Linked DNA regions of Homo sapiens. The protein of the gene in region 1 interacts with the protein of each later gene in a pairwise test. Each region holds a gene or a part of one and is shown on either strand. Other genes may lie near its edges.

Evidence for each region.
Region 2: the proteins of SHANK2 (region 1) and NCK1 interact in binary tests that used the Homo sapiens proteins (3 or more experiments, as listed by UniProt).
Region 3: the proteins of SHANK2 (region 1) and PLCG1 interact in binary tests that used the Homo sapiens proteins (3 or more experiments, as listed by UniProt).
Region 4: the proteins of SHANK2 (region 1) and CTTN interact in a two-hybrid assay, tested with the Homo sapiens proteins (one study listed by BioGRID).

The regions. Positions count from the first base shown.
Region 1 is NC_000011.10:71,240,820-71,248,344, forward strand, and holds part of SHANK2 (SH3 and multiple ankyrin repeat domains protein 2), read right to left. Parts: intron 2,710-7,525; exon of another isoform or gene 2,577-2,709; intron 104-2,576; exon of another isoform or gene 1-103. UniProt on the Homo sapiens protein: Seems to be an adapter protein in the postsynaptic density (PSD) of excitatory synapses that interconnects receptors of the postsynaptic membrane including NMDA-type and metabotropic glutamate receptors, and the actin-based cytoskeleton.
Region 2 is NC_000003.12:136,940,543-136,948,067, reverse strand, and holds part of NCK1 (SH2/SH3 adapter protein NCK1), read right to left. Parts: intron 2,486-7,525; coding exon 1,773-2,485; exon of another isoform or gene 1,737-1,772; intron 1-1,736. UniProt on the Homo sapiens protein: Adapter protein which associates with tyrosine-phosphorylated growth factor receptors, such as KDR and PDGFRB, or their cellular substrates. Maintains low levels of EIF2S1 phosphorylation by promoting its dephosphorylation by PP1.
Region 3 is NC_000020.11:41,142,657-41,150,181, reverse strand, and holds part of PLCG1 (1-phosphatidylinositol 4,5-bisphosphate phosphodiesterase gamma-1), read right to left. Parts: intron 1-7,525. UniProt on the Homo sapiens protein: Mediates the production of the second messenger molecules diacylglycerol (DAG) and inositol 1,4,5-trisphosphate (IP3). Plays an important role in the regulation of intracellular signaling cascades.
Region 4 is NC_000011.10:70,414,236-70,421,760, reverse strand, and holds part of CTTN (src substrate cortactin), read right to left. Parts: intron 7,220-7,525; coding exon 7,109-7,219; intron 6,099-7,108; coding exon 6,044-6,098; intron 4,749-6,043; coding exon 4,638-4,748; intron 2,016-4,637; coding exon 1,905-2,015; intron 1,362-1,904; coding exon 1,251-1,361; intron 292-1,250; coding exon 181-291; intron 1-180.

The DNA.
Region 1 (7,525 bases):
CAACTCCTTGGGAGGCTGAGGTGAGAGGATTGCTTGAGCCACGGAGGTCCATTCAGAAAATGGAAAGCTGAGTGGTCGATGAACCGGAACTGGGAGCAGCTTTCTATGAATCAGAGAAAATGCAAGTTAAAAGGAGACACCATTTCCCACGCATTAGACTGGTAAATATCAGGAAATACCAAGTCTTGCTGAGGAGGAGGGGCCCAGGGAGTTCTCACACCATGTGGGTGGGATTGTAACTTGGTACAACCCCTGGGAAAGCAATTTGAGAACACTGGTGAAAGCTAGCTCTGTGCACGGTGAAAGCCCCGGGCTAGGCAACTTCTCCTCTAAGGAGGTACCCGGGGAAGCCCCGCCAGCCCTGCATAGAAGAATGTTCCCTGCAGCACAGTCTGAAAGAACAAGATCCTGAAAACAACCCAAATGTCAACAGGAAGAGAAAGAATAAAATGCGGTTAACCATTCCATAGAATGTATAAACTGAGCTACATGATCAACTCAGGGTGGATTTTTTTAAGTGACTATTAAGGAAACATCAAGGCAAAGCTTCCAGCGAGCGGGAAGTGCCCGGAAGCCCCGCTTCCCCTGCCCCACACAGGCGACCCAAGGCCCCATGGGACAAACAAACACGTACCTTCGCCAGCAACTGCATATGAGATCAGCAAATGACCCATTGCACAATCAGCCTGCGTTTAAGATCATGAGGCAACCGGAAAGCATCTAATCAGTTAATCAGCTACATTTTGCAGGAGACACTCTCCCCCCTGCTACTGTCTCTGGTCCCTGTTTTTCTTGGGATCCAGCTCTAGGCTGGGGCTGAACCCACAAAGATGAGACACCCCCACCAGGTTCCCAGGGAGCAGCACCTTGCCTCACTGGAAGACACCAGACATGGGAAGGAGTCATGTCCCACAATTTCTCCCACACTCAGGGTCACCCCTACTTTCTCCTGAGACCCATGAAGAAAGGTGGGGCCTCCTTCTGTGAGAAAGCAGCCTAGGCTGGAGCGAGTGGGTAAAAGATCTCAGCTTTAGTATCTCAAGACCAGACGGGCCTGGGGCTGGACGCTGCTTTTGAAGGTGTTTTCTAAAAGCAAGGACTCAAGATACTTGCACAACCATGTTCGCAGTAGCATTATTCACAACAGCCAGAGGGTGAAGCCACCCAGGTCCTCAAGGATGGATGAATGTATAAACAAAATGTGGCCCATCCACACAATGGAATATTACTCAGCCACAAAAAGGAAGGAAATTCTGACACACGCTACAACATGGATGAGGCTTGAGAACATTATGCTGAGTGAATTAAGCCAGACTCAAAAAGACAAACACTGCATGATTCCACTTGGATGAGGTCCCTACAGAAGTCAAAGAGACAGAAAACAGACTGGTGGTCGCCAGGGGCTGGGAGAAGGGGGCTGGTTTGCTAGTGTTTAGTGGGGACGTAGTTTCAGTTCTGCAAGCTGAAGAGTTCTACAGATACATGGTGACGATGGCTGCAGAGCACGATGAGCATCCTTAATGCCTCAGAACTACACACCTAAAAATGGTGAAAAGGGTAACTTTTTATGTTATAGGTATTTTGCACAATTTATAAAATGTGCATTGGGAAAAAAAGTGCTCTCAATTTCCACTGAACTCTTCCTGTATCACACACCGCTTCCTTTACCTCCTTTAAGTGTTTGCTCAAGGACCGCTACCTCAATGCAGCTCACCCCGACCATCCTGCTAAAACAGCAGCCCCCCTGGCTCCCAGCCCCCACCAGCAAGCTCTCCTTTCCTCCCACACTACATCACTGCTTATTTATGATCTCCTTTAATTATTGTTTGCTCCCCTGGCGAGGATGTCGACCCTACAAGGGCAGAAATATTTGTCTGTCTGGTTCACTGTTGTATCCCAGAGTCTAGAGCAGCCTAGCAGACACCTGCAGCACATGCCACAAAAGACGGCAGAATACTCATTCTTCTCAAGGGCACGTGGAACATTCTCCAGGAGAGGCCTCATGCCCGGCTATAAAACAGCCTCATTAAACATCAGCAGGACTGAAATTATACAAATAATGTTCTCCAACCACAATAGAATGAAATTCGAAATTTATTTTACAAATGCACAAATATGTGGAAATTAAACAGACATCTAAATAGCCAATGGGTCAGAGAATAAACCACGGGGAAATTGGAAAACACTTTGAAACGAGTGAAAAAGAAGACAAAACACATCAAAACTTATGGAATACAACTAAAGCAGTACTTAAAGGAAATTCAGATCTGTAAATGTCTATGTTAAAAAGAAGAAAAATCTCAAATCAATAACCAAAACCTTCCACCTTGTGAGAGTCAGAAAAAGAACGGGAAACTGAAACTGAGCTAGCAGAAGGAAGGAAATAATAAAGGTTAGGGCTGAAGTTAATGAAATCTAAGCTAGAAAAGCAATAAAGAAAATCAATGAAACTACAAGTTGGTTATTTGAAAAGATCAACGAAATTTACAAACCTGAGCTGAAATGATCAAGAAAAGAAGGGAAGACTCAAATTACCAAACTCAGGAATGAAAGAAGGGACATTATTACCAACTTACAGAATTAAAAGGAGTCAGGCCGGGCGTGGTGGCTGATGCCTGTAATCCCAGAACTTTGGGAGGCTGAGGCGGGCGGATCACGAGGTCAGGAGATCAAGACCATCCTGGCTAGCACGGTGAAACCCCGTCTCTACTAAAAATACAAAAAAATTAGTTGGGCCTGGTGGTGGGCGCCTGTAGTGCCAGCTACTCGGGAGGCTGAGTCAAGAGAATGGTGTAAGCCCGGGAGGCGGAGCTTGCAGTGAGCTGAGATCACGCCACTGCACTCCAGCCTAGGCAACAGAGCAAGACTCTGTCTCAAAAAAATAATAACAATAATAATAATGAGACGGTGCTACAAACAACTACATAGCAACCACATTAGAGAAACTCACATGAAGTGGACACATTTCTGGTGGGACACAAACTAACAAACTTGACTCAAGAAGAAACAGAAAATCTAAAAAGACCTATGACAAGCAGAGATCCAATCAATAATTTTAAAAGTTTTCACAAAGAAAAGCCTAGGCCCAGATGGCTTTATTGGTGAATTCTACCAAACATTTAAAGAAGAATGAAGGCCAATTTTGCATAAACTTTTCAGAAAAAAATGGAAGACAATGCTTCCCAAGTCATCTTATGAGGCCAGTATTACTCTGATACCAAAACCAGACTTCAAAAGAAAACTATAGGCTTCCTTGGGCAGCCAGACACCTACAAAGTCCTCTCCACTCTCCTGTCTACACTTGCAAGCCTGCCTCACTCTATAAATTGGCCAGGCTGCTCTCTCAGAGTCTCCTAAACTGCCTTAGGCTCTGCCAGCCTCCTTGACCCCACAGCCTGGAAGGTGCCTCTGCATGCTCCCACCATCCTAGACCCCACAATCAGAGGGCCTGCCCCTGGGGTCGGAACCAGCTGGTGGCTGTCTGAAGCCCCTGACTAAACTCCACAGACATATCCTGAACGACAAGAAAAGGTACATGCATCATTCAAAGCACCCTTTGGACCACATGGCACAGCCAGCTTTCAAACGGGACCCATGCACTGACAAGGCGGATCACACGCTCCTCCCAGAGGCTCTCAGCGTGCAGCCCCGGGAACCAGCCTATTCGAGAGATCTATGAAGTCAAACCATTCTCATCATAACACTGAGATGGGAGCTGCTTTTTCAAGCTCATCCTCTCCCAAGTGCACAACGGAAGCTACAAAACTTGTGATATTGCAACAAGCTGACTGCAGGAGCAGATACGGGAACCCAGCTGTCTTCCATTAAACCTCACAGCAAAAAGACCACAAAAATGTTAAACAATGCCACTCTTCTCACCAAGTGTTTTTTTGTTGTTGTTGAGATGGACTGTCACTCTGTTGCCCAGGCTAGAGTGCAGTGGGGCAATCTTGGCTCACTGCAACCTCCGCCTGCCGGGTTCAAGTGATCTCTTGTGCCTTAGCCTTCTGAGTAGCTGGGACTACAAGTGTGCCCCACTGTGCCTGGCTAATTTTTGTATTTTTAGTGGAGATGGGGTTTCACCATTTTGGCCAGGCTGGTCTCGAACTCCTGACCTCAAGTGATCCACCCGTCTCGGCCTCCCAAAGTGCTGGGGTTACAGGTGTGAGCCACTGCACTATTTTTTTTCCTCACTCTGTCACCCAGGCTAGAGTACAGTGGCGTGATCACGGCTCACTGCAACATCGACCTCTCAGGCTCAGGTAATCCTCCCACCTCAGCTTCCTGAGTAGCTGGGACCACAGGTGCGTGCCACTACACCTGGCTAATTTTTTATTTTTTGTAGAGATGGGGTCTCATTATATTGCCTAGGCTGGTCTCAAATTCCTGGCCTCAAGCAATCCTCCTGCCTCAGCCTCCCAAAGTGCTGGGATTACAGGCCTGAGCCACCTCGACCGGCCTCACCAAGTGTTTTTCTTATTTTGAAAATAGTTGTTATCCATAAAAACACATTATTTATACCAACATGTCATGAGTTTATTACTATTTTTAAATGCATTAATAATTAGATATTTGTAAATTCTAATAGCGTAAATAACAATAGATTCGTGCTCATACATAAAAAGCTTCTGGGTCCTTCAAAATGCTAAGAGAGCAAAAAAGATTCCTTAAGCTAGAAGTCTGACAACCACTGTGCTACCTCATCTGCTTTACCTGAAAGTGAACAGAAAAATAAACTGGTGTGCCACCCAGGAGGCAATCTGGAGGCCGGGGAAGCGACCGGTGCCTTCTTCTGCACGGTGGAGTGGGCAGCCGCCAGGTGTGGATCCCAGCTGGGCCACACGACCTTCGGCAAGTTCAGCCACTGGAGCTGAATGACCCTCGAGGGAGGGAAAGTCCAGAACCAAGACGAGGGGCAGTAGCGACGCCATCGGGTCAGTATCTTCCCCTGCCAAAGTCCCCTGGTCCATGCTTGGGGCCACTGTAGGACCTTGAAATGCAGACAGGAGCAAGGCGTGGTCCCTTTCCTGGGGGACCTGTCCACCTCGTGAGGAGGGGTCAGACAGGAGCCCGGCTGGCCCAGGGGCAAATGCCTCTAGTTTGCAGGCCCCTGTACGGGAAGAGGGGAGTGGAGCAGATTCTTCAAATCCCAGGGACATTTGTGCGGGGTGGCAGGAAAAACATGGACAGGAACGGCTGAGCCCTATGCTCTCAGGGGTACAAATGAGGCCACAGAAGCATCCCCCTCCACTCCCCAGGAAGCCTGCATTCTCCCCAGGGAAGGAATCCAGGGCAGGATTTTCAGGAAAGACAGGCTTGGAAGCTCATTTCCCACCTCCCAGGAGCCCGGAAGTCTGTGTCAGCTCCAGGTCTGGAAACCCAGGATGCCCTGCACCCCATTCCTTGGGCCCTAAGCCTCCCAGGACCCACCCCAGTGGACCAGGGAGCAGACTGCCAGCTGTCCAGACTCTTGGCCATTCCCCACCCCCACCGAGGACTCTAGGTGCTGACTCTGGATTCTCCTTGAGAAGAGGAGGGGACTGATGAGCCGGAGTGAGGAAGACGTGGGGCAGGACACCCCCAAGTCTGCAGGGAGGCAGCAAAGCCTGGCAGTATGCAGAGCACACACCTGGCATCACATGTCACTGCCTTCACGTAAGTATCATCACTGTCCCCAGGTAAGAATCACCTGCAGGACCTTGAGTACAGGTGTAATCTTGTGAACTAAGATCTCCCTTGCAGGGGGCTTCAAACTGAGGTGCAAGGACCCTTTCCACGTAGACCCAGCTCAGTCTAAAGGGTAGCCAAGTCTTTCCTGAAATTGCTCAGTGGAGAAAGGCCTTGGATCCCCTGCCCACCTCCCCTCCCTAACATCCCTGAGGCTCTTTTACATAAGAAAGGCATAGCTATCCCCCGGAAGCTGGTGAGGGGGTGGTGCAGCTCCAGGTGAAGGGCCCTCCTGATACCAAAACAAAAGGGCTAATGCAACTAGGGCTTCAATTAAAACACCAAAAACACCCACTGCCTTCTCACTCAGAGAGGCAGCTCCAGTAACAGCTCCCCTTTTCCATTTCTAAAAATCTGTAATATATTTATAGTTTTTGACCAACTGCGCCCCAGCAATGACTGTACAGCTTTTTCAATTCAGAAGTAATTTTTTTAAATACTTAGCAACTCCAGGTCATGGGAAATTTTATGAAAGTCAATTTATGTATATTTTTCGTGCAGAGAAGTATGCTAGGTTGATTAATAAAAGACCCATGAGCATAAAAGTCTATTACATTAGGATAAAATTCTTTGGGGAAGTGGCTGTATAAATTCAAGAAAAGAACGATGAAAATGTCCTAAAGCTCACTTACGTATCCGTCAAGAAAAAGTGGCTGTGAGTCACGATGGGTTTATATCACAGTGGGTAAAGAGTCAGGCAACAGTTCCTTTTAAAATATCGATATTTACCTCACAGAGGTACCGTAGCCTTTACAAATATTTAAACCTATAAAGAAAAATTTTAGACGTTGACTTTAAAATGTGTGAGAAGCTTGGTAAATGATGAATGGCACAATCTGAAAGGAGTTTACTGGCAATTGTTTCAGCTTTGCTGGATATTTGAATTTTTCATAAAAAATTGTTGCAGAAAATGTATGAGAGAACAAGCTGTTTTTTTTAAAAAAAACAACACTTTCAGGGACAGACAAAAAAAAAAAAATGGAAGAGGCAGGCCCCAGCCCAGCAGGGCCATGGCAGAGCTGCAGTGCTTATGACCTCTAATGCACGCCTCCTGGGGGGTCTCTGGTGAGGCCTTTCTAAGTCCAGCAACTCAGGGCTGCTCCAGCTGATCTTCCTCTCCCTCTGGGGGAGCTCCCGTGCTGCCTTTCTGCTGCAGCAGAATTTCTGGGACGGGGAGCCAGGAGCCCTTCTGCATTCCACCATTTGGAATCTGCAGCCTCAGATTGGGAGTTTGTGGCCTAATTCCATTCACACGCCCCTCACTGAGCTAACCCCAGAGTCGCTACCATACCCAGCAAGGACAATTTTAAAACACTGTCCCCAGTCGTGCTCTGGTGCAGTGCCGGGTTTGGCAATGACATCTGGCAGCCAATCGGGGAGCCCAGCATGTCCCTGCTGCTGCCAGCAAACTCCTGGCAGCCCCACAGGCTTTTAAGAACTTAATCTCCCAGGGAGCGAGCTGCGTTTCAGCCAGTCCCTCCCTGAAGGCCCATCCCCGGCATATGTGCATCCAGAGAGACCCAGGCTATGGTCCCTAAACCCAGGGCAGGCTCTGGGTAGTGGGCATGGGCCCATTGTCCCCCGCCCTGCAAAGAACAGAAACCCTAGAATGCAGGGAAGGCTTGCATCAGAGGCGACTGTACCCCAAAGCCCAGCATCAGTACTGGCGCCATGGCCAAGGAGACAGCCGTCCATCAGCGGCATCAAACCAGTCCTTGAATCTGCCTTCAACAATGGAAAACGTGGGGCACATCAAGAAGTATGATGAGAAACTGGTTTTCACCTGCTGACCGCAGCG
Region 2 (7,525 bases), on another chromosome or scaffold:
AAGCTATTAATAACTTGGCCAATATCATCCATCTAGTTAACAACAGAGCCAGGATTCAAACCTGCATAATCAAAAGTCTCTTAACACCCACGGCTCCAACAGCAGACACCCACAGCAAATCCTTTAGTTAAATATTTGAAGAACAAGAGCTATCTTCTCTCCAGTCAGAGAAACACATGAGAAAGTCTAAGATACCCACCCAACCCCTTTTCAATGTGTAGCTAACAGTAGCTGTCTTAGAGATAACATGCTGAATTCCCAAAAATGAAGAATACACAAATGAGAATTAATCTAAACTTTAAGGAGAGGCTACAAACTCAAATGCCTACAAGAGCCAAAAGAATAATGTAAATAAGTGTCAGAGTGGAAAGGTAGATGGGCAGAGGAAATGACAGTGTATCACCAATCTAAACAAGTGGTGACTTCTCAGCTGTGATTGTTGCCTTGCAGGAACCGGGTCTCAATGTTGGTAGTTCTTCCAATTTTAAATGGTCTAAAGTCTGAATTTTTATAATAAATATCCTAATATTTAAATATCGGCAATGAATTTAAATGTTTAAAAAACACTGTGAAGGCTAAACAAAATATGCCTACTTGAGACCTCTAACCTTAAAAAGTATACTGCTAAAAATAATGGTATATATTGCATTTTGTCTAATATCTACACTCAATTACCCACAAGAAAATACATACAATTCTGCATTCAAGCTATCTTCTTTTTAATTAGTTTTGTTGTTGTTGTTACAGTCTATATCAACCCCCAAAGCCTCTTTTTCTACAGTTACTCCCAAAGTTTCAAACAGTGAGCCAGATCAGGCAACTAACAGAAAATGGATGTCATCACTCTTCCCTACTGCCAACCAACTGCTTTTCTGAGGGATTAGGCACAGGCCCCATTTTCCTGAACTTCACATCAGGAAGTTCAATTAATCTCTCTCCCCACCACACCCCACTTCCACACATTTTCTTTCAAAATTTTGTGCAATTACACATTCCCTTTTGTACAAATATACTCACGCAAAGCCAAGATTAACCATGATTTAATAAATGGAAAAGTAGTGATATCTTTCATCAAGGAAAAAGAAAGGCCATTTTTAAGGAAAATGAGTGTCATCAAATTCTAATATCCTAAGCAGTATCTAAAAGAGACCATGAAACCATATTATTTTTCAACTTTTATGGTTTTATAGTTTTATTGTTTACTAGTATTGCAATATAATTTATCTTTTATTGCAAATGCATTTCAAACACTGCTAAAATAGGTTTTTTGAGGTTATAATAAAAGTGCATTCCAATTTCCAAGTAACCAATTTATGAAGAAACTTAATATCAATTTTTTAAATTCAGGGATTTCCTATGTCATAAGGACTACAGTGACTACCTTCTTACACATTGCATCCAATAGCAATTTTTTAAATGTTTCCCAGTTTAATCTATAGTATTATTCTACTCTCAATGAAGAGGCCAGTGTTCCATTTTCTCCATTTAGTTTAATGCAACAGAAACAGAAAATATATCAGGAATGCAAAATCAACAGAACTAGACAAGACGAAATAATTCAGTGTGTAGCAACACTGCCACAGCTCTCTTTTATTCAAAATAGATAGCTAGAAAGAATGCGGACTTTAGCTTTGGAACATTTATGCTTATGTTACGTCCCAGCTTGTTACCTGGTTAACTTTAGGGAAGCCACTTAACCTCTCCATTTCTCTCTCTCTTTTTTTTAAAATACCCAGAGCTCTATTTGTATTTACCTCCGAAAATCAACTTACCGAAGATTCACTATCACGAATGAGGAAATCCCCTTCATGTCCTCTTTCATTTAATGCCATTTCTGCTTGATGCCTGGTGACTTTGCCATAATACCAAGGATTGCCAGCAAACTTTCCAGTGAGTGAAGGCCTAATGTAATCACACTGTGGAGGTGATGGTTCCAAACCTGAAGTTAATGGATTATTCTGCATAACGGTAACATAGTTTTTTGGTACTAGACCAACCATACCATTGATCTTCCTGCATTTCCACCACTCTGGGTCATTTTCAGGTTTTTCAATAACATCCATTACATCTCCTTTCTCGAAATTAAGTTCTTCATCATTAGATGAGCTGAATGGGTAAAGAGCCTGTACCACATGCAACACTTGCCCAGTATTTAGGTTATTGACGACTGCTGCTAATTTCTCTGACAGAGAACCCACATGGTCACCCAAAGGACTGTCACCTTCTTCAGTTACATAGTTTGAAGGGAACCATCCAACTTGTCCATTGTAGCTACCACGCCACCACCCATCACTGCATTTCTCCATGACGATCACCTTTGTCCCCTTTATCAATGATAATTCATCCTCTCTCTCAGCCATGTAGTTAAATTTCACATAAGCGGGCATGTTGAGGTCATAGAGACGTTCCCCTGGGTCAACAAAACTATCATCAGCAGGAGATGCAGAATCTGGCACACTAGGTTTTCTTTTCACTTTTCCAATGCCTGTTGAAATTAAAAAGGGCCATGAGAGGAGAATATAAAAAAATGATTACCAAAAGAATGAACTTATTCATTATTAAAAAGAGATCTTCAACTCTATATAGATCTTTAAAGCTTTTAAATATAACAAATTTCTATGTAGTTAAAAATCATCTTTTTGGAAATAAGATGCAAATTTTCTTTTTCTTAACCAAATAAATATTTAATTTGTTATTATATGACAGTTCACCATCTTTTCTCTTGTCAAAGGCCCTGAAATAACTATATAACATAATTATAAAGTTGTCCTAAATTAATGAATTCCCTCTTAAATGTAAATATAGATTTCTTTCATAGCTACAATCTAAGTACACAAAGGCTCCACCACACCCATACTCTTCTTGTCTTAGTTTAAGCAAGCTAGATTCTACAATGAGCTGTATAAAAATAAAATTATTTCTATCTTAAATCAGAATATGATATGCAATATAAAATTGCAGTTATGTCTGGCTAATCTTCCCATTTGCTTTCTTGGTTCCCAGACCCAGGTAGCTCTATTTACCTCATATGTTTATTTTAAAATATTATTTGTTTTTCTCCCCTTACCCCAGTCATATGTAACCTCCAAAAGGACAGGGAGTTTTGTTTGTTTACAGATAGAATCCCAAGGATCTTGTATAGTGCTTAGTACACAGTAAATGCTTAACACATATGTGTTGAAAGAAATGAGAAAATCACCAAATGGTACTATCAATACAAATGTACGCTACATCAACTTCAGTCAGGCATTTTCACTGCTGCCCATTTCTTAGCGTGTGATTTTATGCTCTACTTTACCTAGAAAACTGAGGCTTCCCTAGGTAAAACTTCTCAAATTCCTTTTGTCTCAAAACTCTCATTATCCTCACTCTCGTTCTTCACTCAAGTCTCCAAATCCTGATCCTTCTAGGATCTTAATACTATCTTTCCTGACTCTCTTGGGACTCTCGACATCCTTGTTTTCCTTCCTATTTAGTCCCTTCAATTGTCTAAAAACACACTCATATCTTTTCTACTCCAAAATGAAGTTACTTTAACTCTGCTACAACTTTTAAACCGTAACATTTTGGTAATTTATTTATTTTTTCTCTAACTGGTCCAATTTTCCTATAGAATAAACTATACCACTCTTTTAAAAGTTGTCTTTCCCGGCTGGGCACGGTGGCTCATGCCAGTAATCCCAGCATTCTGGGAGGCTGAGGCGGGCAGATCACAAGCTCAAGAGATCGAGACCATCCTGGCCAAACATGGTGAAACCCCGTCTCTACTAAAAATACAAAAATTAGCTGGGTGCAGTGGTGTGCACCTGTAGTCCCAGCTACTCAGGAGGCTGAGGCAGGAGAATCGTTTGAACCTGGCAGGCGGAGGTTGCAGTGAGCCAAGATCACGTCACTATACTCCAGCCTGGCGACAGGGCAAGACTCTGTCTCAAAAAAAAAAAAAAAAAAAAAAAAAGGTTGTTTTTCCTTTTCCCTCGACTTTTTCACCACTCACACTCCCAACTCTTTATTATCTGATCCTTTGTCTCCAACATTCTAACAAAACTACTCAATTAAAACCATTCTTATGAATACCATTCTTATGTCATCTCTCCTTACTGTCAAATCAGTAACTTTTAAAGTCCTCAGCCTTCTCAAACTCTATATGCAGCAACCAAGATCACAGCCCACTCTCTCCATTATGTTTTCTTCTTCTTTGACTTCCCCGAATTTCTTATTTTCCCTCCCAACCTGTTTACATATTCTTGTTTACCTCTGTCTAGGCTCCTCTAACCTTGTTATTATAACACTGCATTGTACTTGTTTACTTGTCTGTCTTCCTCAATATGAGTGAACTTCCTGAGGGCAGAAAACGAGATCTTATTCGTTTCTGTCTCCAACGCTTAGCAGTACATACATCAGTAGTAGGAACAAAGGAAAAACAAAATTATGTATTCAGCAGTCAGCAAACATGCTGAATGAATAAATGAAGAATTCCTTAGCTGAAAGTGTTTCACAAGATGACATACTTGACCTTCCTCTCTATTCCAAGGAAATCATACACTTTCATTTTCTATAATTTCTGTGCAGAAGGTTCCCAGATCTCTTTGCAGCTCTAAGACCTTTCTGGAATTCAGGCATTACAATTCCAACTGTCACTAGACACCCACAGATTGTGCCATCAGTACCTCAAACCCAACACTCATGTCCAAATAAAAATAATCCAGTCTATACCCCTAAATCAACTTCTTCCTTCCTAATTTTCTTACTTCCGGTTAATGATAGCCTTCAGAGAAATCCCTACATTTGGGGTGATACCACCAAAAATAGTAGAGTAAGGAACTCCAAGGCACTGTCCCTGCAAAAAGCAATGAATGCAATTAATGAGCTGGTAAATACTGTCAGACTCAACTTTTGCAGAACTCTGGAATCTAGTAAAAAAAAAAAACTTATAAAATCTAGGGCAAGGCTTGGTAAAGAAAGAAGTTGCTGCTTTGTGGTAAAGAGAGTGCTATCGCATCCTAAGTTGCCTGCCCACCATCCCCCACACCCCAAGTCAGTGATGGCTGTGTGGACAGTAACCTGCACTCCTAATGCCAGAGGAAGCAATACAGATCTCATTCTTAAACAATTGTGATTGTGGGTTTCAACTTGTCTGGCAGCTCCCTGAAGGACCTGAGCAATGGCTTGCCTTGGCTTTGCCTGACTTGAATCATTCCCAGGCATAGGGAGTCTTCCTGGGTGGTTTTTGCAAAAATCATTTAATGGATGCAGCAGCCTGGGGCAAGGGACAACAACTGGGACAAGGAACAGACAGATGGAAAAGCCTGGACAGAAAGGGGATGGGAAAGAATATACATGGGGTAATAAGGGGTGTGTATACCAATCAAGAAGGACGTGCACATGGCCAGGGCTGGATGCACATTCAGGAAAGGCCCAAGAAGACCCTAAGCTTTCACCCTGGCTGATCTTCAGGCTTTGAGCAAACAGTAAGCAAAGGCTAAGGCAGAATTATAAATGGCATCACTAAGTGGTCAAAAACTGCCCCAACATAAAGCCATCTGTAAAGATGGGGAGAGGTTTTCTTTTGTTTGTTTGTTTTTTCTTTTGGCTCCAGGTGTTTAACGAAACTCTGTTAAAACCCTAGCTGATTACTAAGCAAATGGAATAGACTTCAGCGGCCCCACATGACCAGGAATATAGAGCTTATAAAAGTAGTTTAGTAAAGTCACTAAACAAGCAAACAACAACCACTCACAATAAGCAGCAGTAATAAGCCCTGGGGAGGGGATAGAATCTGATCTGATGCTGAAAGCAAAAGAGCCAACAAAGAATTCTATATTTAGCAAAACTGTCCTTCAAAAATGAAGGAGAACATAAGACATTCCCAGATAAACAAAAACTAAAGGAATTCATCACTACCAGACCTGTGCTAAGAAATGCTAAAGAGAGGCTGGGCACAGGGGCTCACACCTGTAATCCCAGCACTTTGGGAGACAGCGGTGGGTGGATCACGAGGTCAGGAGATCGAAACCAGCCTGGCCAACATGGTGAAACCCCGTCTCTACTAAAAATACAAAAAATTAGCCGGGCGTGGTGGCACACGCTTGTAGTCCCAGCTACTCGGGAAGCTGAGGCAGGAGAATTGCTTGAACCCGGGAGGTGGAGGTTGTAGTGAGCCAAGACCGCACCACTGTACTCCAGCCTGGGAGACAGAGCAAGACTGTCTCAAAAAAGAAGTGCTAAAGAGAATCCTCCAGGCTAAAATGAAAAAACACTGGACAGTAATTTGAAGTCATATGAAGAAATAAAGAACAATGGTAAAGGTAGCTACATAAGTAAATATAAAAGTCAGTAGTATTGCAGTTTTTTTTTGTAAATTCTCCTTTTCTTTCCTACACAATTTAAAATACAAATGCATAAAACAAAAATTTCAATTCTAGGTTAATGGGCATATATTTTAATGTGTAAAGATGTAATATACAAAGATGGAGCTGCAAAGGAGCAGAGTTATGCATAGTACTGAAACTAAGTTGGTATTAATTCAAACATGATTGTTAAAAACCTAAGATGTTAATCCCCAGGGTAACCACTAAGGAAAAACAAAAATACAGAAAGAGAAACAAGAAGGGTAATAAAACAATATATTAGAGAAAATAGTCCAGTCACAGAGGCTCACACCTGTAATCCCAGCACTTTGGGAGGCCAAGGTGGGCGGATCACTTGAGGTCAGAAGTTCAAGATCAGCCTGGCCAACATGCTGAGACCTCGTCTCTACCAAAAAAATACCAAAAAATTAGCCAGGCATCGTGGCATGCACCTGTAGTCCCAGCTACTCGAGAGGCTGACATATAAGTGTCGCTTGAACCTGGGAGGCAGAGGTTGCAGTGAGCAGAGATTCCACCACTGCACTCCAGCCTGGGTGACAGAGTGAGACCCTGACCCCCACCCTCCAAAAAAAAAAAAAAAAAAGAAAAAGAAATCACAAAAGAAGACAGTAATAGAAGAATTGAAAGAAAAAAAAGTAAATGAAAACAGCAAAATAGCAGAAATCCTTCCTTATCAGATATAACTTTAAATGTAAATAGATTAAAAATAACATGATGCAACTGTTATCTGCAAGACACTCACTTTAGATCCAAACAAAGATGCAAATAGGTTTGAAAATGAAAGGATGGAAGAAGATATCCCATGTAAAGGATAACTGAGAGAGTGGGGTGGCTATATAAATATCACACAGCATAGGCCCGGCGCGGTGTCTCATGCCTGTAATCCCTGCACTTTAGGAAGCCGAGGCGGGTGGATCACTTGAGCTCAGGAGTTCAAGACTAGCCTGGCCAACATGGTGAAACTCCGTCTCTACCAAAAATACAAAAATTAGTTAGGCATGATGTCAGGTGCCTGTAATCCCAGCTACTCAGGAGGCTGAGACAGAAGAATCGCTTGAACCTGGGAGGCGGAGGTTGCAGTGAGCCGAGGTCACGCCACTGCACTCCAGCCTGGGCAACAGAGCGAGACTGTCTAAAAATAAATAAATATATATCAC
Region 3 (7,525 bases), on another chromosome or scaffold:
AAGTCACTCTGTTGTCCAGGCTGGAGTGCAGTGGCACCAACAGGGCTCACTGTAGCCTCTACCTCCCCAGGTGCAGGTGATCCTCCCACCTTGGCCTTTCAGGTAGCTGGGACTACAGGCAAACCACAACGCCAGGCTGATTATATTTTTTGCAGAGATGGTGTTTTGCCATGTTGCCCAGGCTGTTCTTGAACTCCTGGGCTCAAATGACTCGCCAGTCTTGGCCTCCCAAAGAGCTGGGATTACAGGCATGAATCACCGTGCCTGACCCATAAATCACTTATCTATGGTCCTCCTTCCTGACACCTCAGAGCAATCAACATGGTTGATCACGCCCTCTCTCCTTGAAGCTCTGCCCTTGATTTCTCCTGCACAACCTTGCCTGGTTTTCATGCTTCTTTGTGCGCTACAGGCCTACCTGCATTTAGCAATGGCCTTGGTCAAGGCTCAGGTCAAGGTCCTCTCTTCCGGTGCTCTGCCTTCTTCCTCATCAGTGTCAGCCATGCCCACACCCTTAATTACCTCCTATGTACAGATAATTCACAAACAGGTCTCTAGCCTAGTCCTCTCCTCTTAAGCTTCAGATCCTTCAATTCAGCTGCCTACTTGCTATCCCCACTCTTCATCTCAAAACGTCTCAAAGACAACTCCTCAAAACCAAACACTGTCTTCTCTCTCTCACCAGAACCAAGGCCTCTTGCCATACCCCCTGGGTCAGCTAAGAGCATCACCATTCAAACAGGTACCCAAACTCCAAACTTCAGAATGATCCTTCGCATCTCCTTTTCTCTCACCAGCCCCCAATCCAGCCCTCTGAGAAGTCCCACTGGCTTTATTATTCAAAATTAACCATACGTTCTGAGCACCTACATGAGAGACATTAAACTAGATACTTGGAATACAAGTACCTCAAGGAGCTTGAATGTGGAAGGAAAAATTAGATATGAGTATTATGCTAGATAGCTTACGTTAGAGTCCACAGACAAATACTATAAGAAGCTGAGAAGTAGAGGATGAAGTAGTTACTACCTCTGCTGGGTGGGAAGAGACGATGAGCAACAGCAGCATCTGGCATCCTAACACTAATTTCTTGCATATTTACTTTGCATAGACATTGCATAAAGCTCTTGATAAGACTGCCTTACAACGATAAAAACTGCCTTATATTTTATACTTGCAAATAACACTATGAAGTAAGTATTAGGGTCCCCAATTCCCGAGTGAGGAAATTGAGCACAAAGAGGTTAATTAACTTACCTAAGGTGGCAGTTGGTGAGTGGCAAAGCCAACAATACTTCAAAGCCAAGACTGCCTGTACCCTAGACGTGTGCTCTGTAATGCCTCAGAATCCTTGTTGGAAGTGGCCAAGCAGGGCCAGCACAGACAGAAGGGGAGGATGGAGAGGACTCCAGGTTTCGTGGTGCACTCCTGCTTCACAGTATTTATTATAGTAGCCATACATGTATTTTAAGGCTGTCTGATTGTTTTCTCCACTAGAGCGTAAACTCCTTGAGAGACTGCACCATGTCTGCCATCTTCAATGCTCCATGCCTACCAGGAACTTAATAAGGTTTTGGGGACCTTATTCAAGAAAAATACTATGAAAGCATCACTGCTATATAACCTGTTCCTGCTCACTAGATAAATGAGGCCCTCCTGACCACAGCCCAGCATATCTCCAAGTCTCTCTCTGCTGCCCTGTCTCTGCAGAGCCCTCTCACAAGGGAGAGGAAATGGAATGGGTTGGGAGAAGAAATAAAAATCTGGGGTCTCCCTCCTACAAGGAAACAACAGGGGCCTAGGACTCATAGTGGTGGGGGAAGCGTCAGAGCAACAGGGGCTGAGGTAGGGAGACAAGTGGGAAAGGGAGAATAGAGGCCTTCCCCTCTGCCACTCCCTGAACCCCATGACATCTCACCACCCCAACCTTGGTTCCTGCCTCTTTGGTTTCTGTGTTACTGCCACCTCTTGGACAGTAAATGTTGGTTTAGTCCTTAAGCCTCCAACAGAGTAAATCTGTGGGGCTGGAGACGTTCTAAATAATGACCGGAAGTCGTCAGGTCAGAGGCCTGCTTGCTGAGACATCCTGCTTCAGCAGAACCCACTAGGCTCTCCTGTTTTAGAGCTACTTGACCCAGCCGCCACAGCATCTGGCTGCACTCCCTTTGCGCCATGCCAGCCCAAGCCAAGCCACTCTCCTGTTCCCTTTTTGCTTCCTGGGAAACAGGGCCCCAGTGAGTGATCTAGACTCTGATCTCACTCCAAGGTGCCAGGGATCTCATTCACTCACTGCCTGCCCAGAAAGCCCAGCTTAAATTTTTTTTTTTTTTTAAAGAGACAGAGTCTTGCTCTGTCACCCAGGCTGGAGTGCAATGGCGCGATCTTGGCTCACTGCAACCTCTGCCTCCCGGGTTCAAGCAATTATCCTGCCTCAGCTTCCTGAGTAGCTGGGTTACAGGCGCCTGACACCACGCCTGGTTAATTTTTGTATTTTTAGTAGAGATGGGATTTCACCATCTTAGCCAGGCTGGTCTTGAACTCCTGACCTCGTGATCCCCCTACCTTGGCCTCCCAAAGTGCTGGGATTACAGGCGTGAGCCACCGTGCCCAGCCCAGCTTAAATTCTTTGAACTCACCTCCCCTACTGAGAGAGATGGCTACCTTGGATTTCTTTCTCTGAAGTTGAAGTTGAATAACCTATCGTTTTACCTGCTTAGGACAGCTGCTTGCCCAAACTTTACTAGCACACATGATTGTATGGAGCTTCATGCTTCCGGTGTAGACCAGTTCTCAGGCCAGAACCAGGCCATCCTCTTGTGATCAGTCTGGCAACAGACATTCTGTTCTCACTGGAGGGAATGCTCTGTGTTTCACTGCTGGCCTCAAAAGGCCCTCAGCAAAATCCTTAACAAAGTGACATATGTTACCTTTTCCAACCTCCTTGGTAGATATGCTAAGAACGCCCAAGAAAAGGCCACAGTCCCAGTTAGGATGGACAAGCTAACACAGGCACATTATACTCAATTACTGTTGAAGGTGGAGGAAGTGACTAGGGCAGGAAGAGGGGAGCTGCCTCCAAACAGGTGGTGGACTATCAGGCAGAATAGGGTGACCATAAAGTGGGTCTTCAGTGCCTCAGAGAAGGACCATCACCCCTGCCCCCATCGCTGCCCAACCTCCCAACTGAGGGAATGGAGTTGTATTCCTTAGCTCACCTCCTGCCCCCAAGTAAGCTGAGAAACCTGTGGGACCTATGGCCAACTGGAGCTCTCCTTCACTCCTTCCTAGGGTTAGTCACCCTGTGAACTCAGGCCCACACTCTCTGGGCCTTAGGCTGAAGTCAAGGTGGGGTTGGAATTCTCCCACCACACATCCACACCTACACAGCCAGAACCCAGTGTGGTCAATACCCGACTCCTACCATGGGCAAGGCCAAGCCAAGGACACTATGACCCAAGCCCATGCCCTCAACAATCATTTCCCTCAGAACATTTTAACTCAACCATATCCCCAGGTGTCCAAGAAAACAGGAAGCCAACCCCAAAGTGAACTCCCCACCTGTGCCCAGGAAGAACTAAACACACACAAACAAGTGGCCAAACTCGCCATGGCCCAACTCCTCACCAGTTTGGCCAGCTGTTCACTGTCAGGGCCCAGAACATCAGTAAGACCACCCACTCTCCTCCGTACCCAAGCCTTGCTGCCTTGCGCCCAGGCCCCTCACAGCCTTTGTACAGATGCTTTACCCAACACCTGTGTGCCAGCTGGCAGGTGGAGGGACCCCAGGGGGTAGGATGGGCTGCTACAGGGAGAAAAGCGATTCCATCTTGGCCCTCAGGCCCAGCCTACAGCACTTTAGGCACAGCTGTCTCCTGCCAGCCCTGGGCATTAGCGGTTTTCTGCATGGTCCAGATCACAAGCTTCTCAGGATCAAGGACTGGGTCACCTCGTTTTCTTGCTTCCTAACTCCAGCCTCCTCTGTGCCAGGCCTGGGCTCAGTAAAAAGGGATGCCAGTCTTCTGTAGGAGAACGCCCTGCCCCGTTTACTCTGCATCCTGAGTCTTGCTGAAGCCAGGGCCACCGGCCAACACCAGGAAGGGCCAGGGCCGGAAGGAAGCAGCAGAGCCTATACACAAAGCCTACATGTGGACTATAAAAAGGAGCTCCTCCCTGCCTCCCCCAGGATGGGCCCGGTTCCTAGGAGGTAAAGAGTGGGGAGAAAGCTAGGACTTAAGCCTGGGCACACAGCCACTGCAGCCTCTCAAAAGCTAGCCAAGAACCACCTCAAAAGGAACTAGTCTTGCAAGGAGGGGTGCGAGAATATTAAGGGCTTAGCCAGGAATGCAAGTAGAGACTCTCCAAGTCCCATCTCTTGGGACCATAGCCTCTCTTAAGGCAACCAACTCCACTGTCCCCATTGCTTCTTCCCCAAAACTACAGAATATTCGGGGACCAACCCCTTCTCACACTTCTCTACTCTCTAGGGGCTGAAAACACCCCCTAGAAGTCTCTAGGCACCCATATTCCCCACTTTCTCTGGAGACTTCAGCACACCCAGCAAAGCTCTGGGAAGCAAGTGTGATGAGTGGCAGAAGTAGCGAGAAACTCAAACTCTGGGCAGCAGGAGGATACTGTGGCCACAACAGAGTAGGCTCAGCAGGCAGCTCAAGTAGGGCCATGGGTTGGTGGGGAAGGCGGGGGCAGCTATGGCAGAGATGACAATTAGGCAAGGGCCACACAAATATACCTATTTCAAAGATGTCAGCCAAGACAGTCTCTTGACCCACACAGGCAGCACTCTACTCTACCACAACAGCAAAGCCACACTCACCACATGCATCCTAAGTCATAGAAATTAATTCCTTCTAAACCTCCATACTCCAAATCCCTCTCCAGCCTAGTTTGCCCAGGGTGTTCAGGTTCTGTACTAGAGGCCTCACCCAGAACCACTGAGGCCACTCTCCAGGGACGGTGGTGTAGGTTAGCACACATAGCAAACAGGGGAAATTAACCTTCCTTGTTGCCAGCCATTGATATGTGGGCATCATTTGTTATCACAGCACACCCTCACCTACCCTGACAGAGCAGCCTCTTGCCTTATTTCCTTCATAGAACTCACCAAATCCTATAAGAATTTTATCTGTCTGCCTATTTATCTCCTTTCTGGCTGTATCTACCCTAACCTTATGTCCACTACTGGTCTCCACAGTGCTTGGCACAGTTAGCAAATGCCAGAGTCTAAAGCCAGGGAAGCACAAGTCGTCTCTCACTTATTCAATGAGCCACTGAGGCCCAAGAAAGCTAGTTTTTTGTTTTTTTTTAAGGAGAGTAGGTATGGTGAGATGGAACACAAACCACGCTAGAGATCTACTGCCACCATGAACAAGTCAGAGGCTGGAGTAATCACATCCAGCTCAGTGTGCCCAACACACAGTAGCAAGGCCCACAACAAATGTATGACAAATTAAAGAGCACATGAATGAATGCATGCTCTTGAGTTGTCATAGAGAATCCTGGAAAAGCCCTTCTCAGGATATTTGGGGCATGGAGCCCCAGGTTCCCATGTTCTGTAGAAGCTTAGGCGGAAGTGTCACCACAAACCAGAAAGTCAAGAGGGTGAGGCTCTTCTGTGTCCCACCCCCAATCAGCGGCTACATTCACCCCCATGTAGGAGTGTGGGAAAGGTCTGGGTGGGCCAAGCATCTCGACACCGGTGTTGTGGCAAGGATGAGTGCAGGACGGGTTTTGAAATTGAGGCAATGAGTCCAGCTTGTCCACAGATGGAAGTCTAGGCTGGTCAAACACATGTGGCCAGAGGGAAGAAAAACAAAACAAAACAAAATAACCCTCTGTTCCTATAGAACGGTCCATCCTATTATCATTTTCCCCAGAATGGGAGAATAAACTGAATACTATAGCAGGAATCTGAAATCCTAGGATCTGCCATGAACTTGCTATGTGACCTTACCCTTAGGGCTTGGTTTTCTCCTCTGTAAGAGAGGGATAGTAACTCCTGCCCTCCATGGATTCATGGAGCTGCTGTGAAGTTCAAACAATACAACAGGTGAGAAAATGTTCCATGAACTCCCAATATGCTATTCCAATTCCAGAGTTTTTTGATGCCCCAGTCCTCTGTGTACAGACTCAGGGAAGGAACACAGAAAGCAAGTAGGAAACAGACTCCTAGCCCAGGTTGTTGGAGCAGCCACTTGTGGCCGAGCTTAGTGGTGGAAAAGATTGGAGCTCTGTGGTTAACAAAGGTGAGAGTAAAGGAAATGAATACTGTTAAGTGGCCACTAAGTGACAAATGTTGTGCTGGGTAGTTTTCACATAAAATCTCTTACTCTTATATATAATCTCCCTTATTATTAATATACAGCTCTGTGAGGAGAAATTACTTTTACAGCTAAAGATCAATTTCAGACAGGGAAAAGTAATCTGCCCAAGGTCACAGTAAGAGCTGAGACCTGAACCCAAATCTGACCAGCTCTAGCCACAAATCTCCAGGCACTTCAGCTCAATTACCAGCAAGGTGGGACTATCTGGTCAATGGTAGCCTGAAGCCACTCCTCACCCGTGGCTCCACCTTGAGTCTTGCCACCTGTAAACATGCTGCTCTCAGAGATTCCCTCCAAGGACGCACTGTTCCCATGCTCCTCTCAACAAGGCACTCTACAAGGGGCACCAGAACATTCCCATCCTCCTATCCCACACCCATCTCTCCTAGGACTCTCCTCACAGTCTGCAGTGACTTCTCTAGTTCTAACAAAGCAAGTGGAAAGGGGGAAAAATCAGTCTCCTAATATCACACCTTTGCAATCTCAGGCCTCACTCCCTTCCTCCAACTTATCATCTGTGGTCTCCTTGAAGCCACATCCCACAGGAAAAGGCACAGAGTAAGAAGAGATGCTGTGAGTTAACGGAGACTGACACAGAACAGTGACAGCAGAGGCAGGCCCTACCACATCGAGGCTGTGGCATTAGAGCACTTCCTCAAAGACAAGATCTCTCCAGATAGCGTCCTGGGCTAGGCACTTAGAAATAGGACAATATCATACCTTCACTCTACAGAAGGGGTTACCACCCAAAGCAGCTGCTTCCAGCCAACTGCCCTGTCTCCCTGCAAAACCAGCAGTGGGAAAGAGCCCTGACAATAGAGGGACTGCTGAGAGCTGCAAGAGAGGATGGGCGGGCCTCCTTGCCTCTGAATCAAAGGGCTTGGTGGCCAGGCACCAGCCCCTTAGGACAGCAGGTGCATTCGAACTCCTCCCCACCAGGTCCTCCTGAGAACTTAATCCTCATCTCTGTCCTGTCAGGGATCCTACGTAGTAAGCACTTACACTGTGCCACACTCCATGCTAAGCACTTTATACAGGTGCTAAGCACTTTATACAGGTTCTCATCAAATCCTCACAAAAACCTTATAAAATAAATGCCATTTAATACTATCCTTTTTACAGATAAGCAGCCCAGAGAGGTAGTCATATGCTTTAAGGTCACAGAGCAAGTAAGCTGCACAACAGGA
Region 4 (7,525 bases), 830 kb from region 1:
CACTCAAAATCAGTGTCGCTCTACTAGAAATGGGTTTAAAGTGCCGAACAGCCTGACAGCTGACAAGTGGTGACACAGGAGGACTGTGTTGCAGGTGCTGACGGTGAGCCCTGAAGTCTGTGCTAGAAGTGGCCGCACAGGAGGGTCGGGGGGAGGGTAGGAGGCTGGTGGCAACTGTGCCTTGCTGGGACTCGTGCTTGGCCAGCTTCTCCTTGTAATCAAACCCCACAGCAGCGGAGTCCTGCCTCTCCGACTGAACACCGAATTTGCCTCCAAAACCAGTCTTATAATCTGAAAATCCACAAGCAACGGTGGGGAAAACAACCAAAAGAGGAAACACAGTTGGGTTAGAATTGCATGAGCATGCGCAAAAATCAAACACAGTTTCCAGAAAGCAAGGGCTCTCCTGAGCTTAGGGCCTTTGAGATCCTACTCCCAGGCTCAGCGCCAGAAGGTGGCTCCAGAGGTCAACGTTAAAGAATGAACTTAAAATCTGAACATTCAGCGAAGATCTGGAACAGCCTAAGAACTGTACTTCAAATAATTCAGTAAAGGCACTCCCGGCTGTGCAGTTCATTCTTAGCGTCCTACGCACACTGCAGACGAGTGTGCGTATCTGTGTACACGGGAGGAGAGACCCTGCAGATTCGGAGGGCGCTGCAGCCCCATTAGCCCCGCTCCTGCTTCTCTCAGGGCTGGGTCACACTGAGAGGCTTTCAGCCCCCTCAGGCTCCTTTTTCCAGGGAAGGGGCACCCATTCCAACAAGAAAACACTTTCGGTTCAAAAGTAAGTATCTCCTGCCAAAAACCGTGGCCCACTTTATAGACAAGAAGCCTGGATGAGGAGCACTGCAGGCTTGGCCCATGTCCCCACTCCCGGGTAAACCCAGCCCCCCGCTGCAGGCCTGACACATGCCCCCACTCCCGGGTAAACCCAGCCCCCCGCTGCAGGCTTGACCCATGTCCCCACTCCTGGGTAAACCCAGCCCCCTGCTGCAGGCTTGGCCCGTGCAACCCACTTCCAGGTAAACCCAGCTCTCTGGGGTACCACCCCGTGTCAGCAGGGAGGGTTTGTGACTACACTAGCTGGAGGGAACTGGGGGATTGGGGGGGCACACAGGACAACTTCAAACAGTGAAGACAAAACAATGTGCAGCAGGCACACGCAGACACAACACATACCAACTGACCCCGCAAGGAACAAAAACAAACTTCTAAAACCATCTCGCATACAGGCAGAGTGAATGTACCTTTTTGGGATTCATGCAGCTGCAATTTCTCCTGGTGATCCCAGCCAAGGGCACATTTGTCTTGTCTGTCTGTCTGCACACCAAATTTTCCTCCAAACCCTTTCACATAGTCTACATGCACAATGAAAGGCCAGAACCCATCATTAACAGGTAGTGCAGGTCACAGGTGGAAAGTATGTTTTCAATACAGTTAAACGCATATGATTCACTCAATCTACTCTTCCCTTCCGGATCTTTGGTAATACTTTAGATAACATCCATGAAGAGGCCCTCCTTGGAGAGTGGCAGGAAATAACCTAGTCTATGACCTCAGCATCGTGACTAAGCCAGACAGGACCCCATGGAAGCTCCCACGCATGCGGCTTCCACCCGCACCATGAGACAGCACAGGCTCACACGGGCAACACAGACGTGCGGGGTGTGGCCACCACGATAAGCAACGCCGCTGGGGCTGGAGCGCCATAACACTCAAGCTGCGAGTTCCTATTTAGCAGCTGTGTTTCTGGATGTGCCGTTTTCAAGTTGGGCATTTCATGAAAAAGAGACATCTACGTTAAGGGCTATCAATAACGCTTTGTTTTTCCTTTTCCGGTGTGGCTACCACCTGTCACATTACTAGCTGCTGGCTGGAGGGTAAGATAAAACGGAAGACACCTTTCTGGGACTCGTGCTTCTCCGTTTTGCCTTGATACTCAAAGCCAACGGCGCTCTTATCCACTTTGTCCTTGTCGATACCGTATTTGCCGCCGAAACCTTTGGAGTAATCTAAAAACAAACAAAAAAGGACTACTTTAAAAGGAGCAACGAAATCAGTGAACATGCAAGTATTTTATCCTTTGATTAAAAAAACAAAAATCTTTCAGGTCCACTGTAGGACCACTGAATAATACAGACAGTATTTAAAGGTGCTATTTATGTGTAATAACAGAAACACAAACAGTGGTAACCAGAGGTGGGGGTGTGTGCCTGCAGCCCAGCTACTCAGGAGGCTGAGAAGGGAGGATCACTTGAGCCCAGGAGGCGGAGTCCAGCCTGAGCAACATAGCAAGACCCCATCTCTAAGTTAAATCATTAGCTAATATTTTAAAAATTCAAAAAACAGGCTGGGGGAGGGGGCTCACGCCTGTAATCACAGCACTTTGGGAGGTCGAGGTGGGTGGATCACCTGAGGTCAGGGGTTTAAGTCCAGCCTGACCAACATTATGAAACCCCATCTCTACTAAAAATACAAAATTAGCTGGGCGTGGTGGCCCACACCTGTAATCCCAGCTACTCGGGAGGCTGAGGCAGAAGAATCACTGGAACCCAGGAGGTGAAGGTTGCAGTGAGCCGAGATTGCGCCACTGCACTCCAGCCTGAGCAACAAGAGTGAAACTCCATCTCAAAAAAAAAAAAAGAATTAAGAAAAAAAGTTTTTTTTTTTAAAGTACAGCAGAGGCTGGACACAGTGGCTCACACCTGTAATCCCAGCACTTTGGGAGGCCAAGGTGGGCGGATCATGAGGTCAAGAGATCAAGACCATCCTGGGCAACATGGTGAAACCCCGCCTCTACTAAAAATACAAAAATTAGCTGGGCTTGGTGGTGCATGCCTGTAATCCCGGCTACTCAGGAGACTGAGGCAGGAGAATTGTTTGAACCCGGAAGGAGGAGGTTGCACTGAGCTGAGATCGCACCACTGCACTCCAGCCTGGCGAGAGAGAGAGACTCCGTCTCAAAAAAAAAAAAAAAAGAAATAAAGTACAGCAGATGAATTCCTGTAACATCATCCATTGCATCCAGAAGCTAGCAGGAGATGAGAGTTTATGATAAGGCTCTAAGCTCAGGAGGCAGCAGAAGGGCAAGGCTTTCAAAGGCCACTCTTCACAAACTGAAGCACGCAGGGGGATGCCAGGAAATAGGACACACACAGCATCCTCCAGAAACTTCAGTTCTACTCAGAATGAAGCCATTTAGCATGTCACTGTGACACCAAAACATGACTCTCTCATGGACCCACTAACAGCACAAGGCAGAGGATCAAGGCCTGGGAGAGAAGGCCTGAAGCATCCAAGGAGCCTTGCGTCTGCCCAGGTGCTCGGCCTGTGCTCCCTGGCTCCCTGGAGTCACACACTCATGCAGCTTCGCGGAGCATGCGCTGCTCACAACTGTGTGGTGTCGGGAAGAGGAGGAATGGACTGTTCCCAGGAAAGAGGCAGAGAGCAGAGGCAAGCAGCTCTGTGCGGCAGGCAAGGCCTGACCGGCAGGAAGGCAAGGCCAGGCCAGGCCGCGACAAACTACAAGCCAAGCTGCCCTCCAGGCCACCGGCACTTTCCTCAGGGAAATGCCAAGCCAGCATGGTCGGATCTTCCAGTGGTGTTTCTTGCTTTGGGGTAATTTTTTTTTTTTTTGAGTTTTTAAATAGTCAAGCTCTCACTTTTCAAATGTTGGCAAATATTTTTAAAAATTTAAATGTGCAGGCCAAACAAGAGGCACAGGGAAACAGGCAGGCCACAGCCTCTGCAGCCCTGGGAAACGCTCTGAGTGATGGTGTACAGGCTATGCAGTGGGGAAGGAAGAACTCAGCACAGCCTCCAAGGACAACTTGGCAGTATCTATGGAAATTTTACATTCAATAGCCTTCGACCCAGCAATTCCATGTCTAGGAGTTGATTCTTTTGAATAATCACTTGTGAACAAAACACAGGTACAAGAATGTTCCCTGCAGTCAAGTTTCAGCTGGGCGCAGTGGCTCACACCTGTAATCCCAGCACTTTGGGAGGCCAAGGCAGGGCGATCACCTGAGGTCAGGAATTCAAGACCAGCCTGGGCAACATGGCAGAACTCCGTCTCTACTAAAAATACAAAAATTAGCTGGGCGTGGTGGCGTGTGCTTGTAATCCCGGCTAGCCGGGAGGCTGAAGCACGAGAATTGCTTGAACCAGGGAGGTGGAGGTTGCAGTGAGCAGAGATCACGCCACTACACTCCAGCCTGGGCAACGGAGCGAGACTCCGTCTAAAAGAAAAAAAAAAAAAATTTACAGGTCACACCTGTAATCCCAGCACTTAAGGAAACCAAGGTGGGGGAGGATTGCTTGAGACCACGGAGATCAAGACCAGTCCGGGCAACACGGCAAGACCTCATCTCTACCAAAAATAAATAAATAAATAAATAAATAACCTAAATTCCACATTCAAAAAAGGAATGGTTACATGGACTATGGAATCCTCATACGATGGGGAACTGTGCAGCCATTCGAATTAGGAAAAGCCCACATACACTGGTACGAAAAGAACACCAAACATTTTCAGTTAAAAAATCTACAACAATCACGTGTGCAGAGAGAAAATGCCCTCGTGGGTGTTTCTGGAGCAAACGCGTGATTACAGACCGTGGGGTCCGCCCCACCTCTCTGTGACTCGTGCTTCTCCGTCTTGCCCTGGTAGTCGAAGCCCACCGCGCTCTTGTCTACTCGGTCGGCCTGCACGCCATACTTGCCGCCAAAACCACTGGAGTAGTCTGGAGAGACAGGGCAGCAATTAGCACGGGGGCCTGAGGACGAACTACACTGTTCCTTTTGTTAAACTAAGCAAAAGTGTGTAGGGGTTACAACTCACAAACACATCAAGCGCACATTTTAAAATGTACAACAAGCCACCCACTGCTCCATACAGGTGACGCTGGACCCTGTTTCACAACAGGTGCATGGGGGGGTTCTGGGCCCTGTCAGCTGTTACAGGGCAGTTCCTTTGTGTAGTCAGAAATGACGCTGCATGCCCACTTTGAAAATCAACTGCTCAGGTAAAAGCTGGAAAGCTTCATACAAAGAACCAGCACTTTGGAGGCTGAGGTGGGCGGATCACTTGAGGCCAGGAGTTTGAGACCAGCCTGGCCAACGTGGCAAAACCCCATCTTTACTAAAAAATAGAAAAACTAGCCAGGGGTAGTGGCACACACCTGTAATCCCAGCTACTTGGGAGGCTGAGGCAGGAGAATCGTTTGAACCCAGGAGGCGCAGGTTGCAGTGAGCCGAGATCGTGCCACTGCACTCCAGCCTGGGCAACAGAGCGAGACTCTGTCTCAAAACAAACAAACAAACAAAACAAAATGAAAAAAATGGAAAGAGAAAGCCTCATATGAAGAAAGCCATGCAGCTGAACATGGGAGACAAGACCCTGATCCTCCGCCTGCCCACACCACAGCTACCTCCACCTAGACTGCACCGAGACTGCGTAAGGACTGAGAGCTTGTTCCGCGGATGATGCAATGACACAAAGGAGGAAGAACTAAATAAGCTTGCAAAAAATAAACTGAGAACTTTAAGGTGGCGATATGCTTTGGTCTTTCAAAAAAGAGACTGCATGATGTAATCAAGATTAATCACCAGCAGTTAAGACCGTATGTGTATAAGGAAAACAAGAATTTAACAACTCTGGTTTCTAGCCTTGGGGGGAAGTTAGCTTTCTGCCGATCAATCTGTGAGCTCTCTTTTCCAGGAGGAGCGCTGCCCAGATGAAGGGAAGGCGGCTTCCGCTACAAGGGGGAGAAGCCCCACAATGACAGCAGATGCCAGGGCTCCGAGGGGGATGTGTAACGGGGAATACATCCATCATGTGGTATCCAGATGATCCAGAAACATGAAGAGGAGGGCAGAGTCCTCCTTGTGGCAACAGCCACCGCTCAGGAAACGGCTTCAGGTGGCTGTGACTCTCCCCATCAGGGCCCCCGGAGCGCGGGGAAACGGCTTCAGGTGGCTGTGACTCTCCCCATCGGGGCCCCCGGAGCGGGCTCTTTCTGCACCTTTCGCGTCTTACCTTTCTGGGAGGCATGCTTCTCAGTCTTCCCCTGGTATTCAAAGCCTACAGCAGACTGTGACGACCAAAAACACATGAAAAAGTGGGGAGAAATACTTTCCAATGTCCCTGAAACAATCTCTCTGAATTCATGACATGACATTTAAAAAAATATGAAACACATGATGCTGTGACCTCTGGGTTCCTAAGCCAGGTGCAGGTGGCAGTGACGCAAGAGCTCTGGCATCCTAAACGGACAGGCCCACTGCAAGGCCCAGTGGGCGGCGCAGGCCAAGCCATATCCCTGGTGACCTGCCCTCCCCAGCATGCGGCAGCAGGGAATGCTCAGCTGATTCATTCCACGGGCTTCACAAAAACTCGCTTCTCAAATAAGTCATGCTGAGAACATTAGTATTAGTAATGAGAATAGCAGTGGCCACCAGGGGTGCACTCCCACCAGCCAGGCACTGCGATGGGCATCTGAGCAAACACCCGTGAGATAGGTATGATCATCCTCCTTTCACAGACACATAAATTCAGAACCGTGGCTAATATGTCACAAAGCCACAATCTGCGACCAGCATCAGCTCCCTGCTCCCTCCAGGCTCCTGATCGCTCCTCTATTAAACAAAAGAGCCAACAGACCCGAGCCGAAGAGAATCAAAGAGGCTCGGGCCTAGGATGACTGCAACAACACCTGGACGCAAAGCCTGGGTCCTGGACACGAGCGCATCCTGCCCCCCCGGTATAGGCTCTGATGTCACTCTGTCACAGTAACACACATGTGAGAAACACGGGTGGAAACGGTCCCTGCTGGCACATTGGGACAGACACAGGGCCATCCAGTACTGAGGCACGTAGTGAAGAGCGACCGCAGGGACTGCTACAGCAAGCCCGCCGCATCCTGCTTCCTCTCTCTGAGAGCCCAGGCTCTCAGAGCATCCTGGGAGGCAGATGCCCCTCTCTGCAGTCCCCCAGAGCTGGAGGGCACCTGCCTGCTACTACAAGTGGCCCAACAGGGCTCAGATCTACGGGGAACGCCCCCCTTGCCCCAACCTGCCCCAGTCCCAGTGCCACATCACTCACCTGATCAACTCTGTCCATCTGGACACCAAACTTGCCTCCGAAGCCACGGACCGAGTCCACCTGCGAGCAGTGCTTGGAAAGTTTCGACTGATATTCGTGGCCGACAGCTGACTGGAACAGGGTTCAAACACAAAGCATTAGACACCAACAACACTGCGGCGCTTCACTTCCTCCCAGAGCAGGGCTGGGGGAGGCCACATCCTGGTCAGTGCAGGGAAACCTTACATTAACACACCCATCTGGGGAGCCAAGGAAGGCGACACGACTCCTGGGAGGCCCGGGTCCTTGGTGCAGGCTTTTTTTTTTTTGAGACAGAGTCTTGCTCTGTTGCCCAGGCTGGAGTGCAGTGGCGGGGTCTCGGCTCACTGCAAGCTCCGCCTCCCAGGTTCACGCCATTCTCCTGCCTCAGCCTCCCGA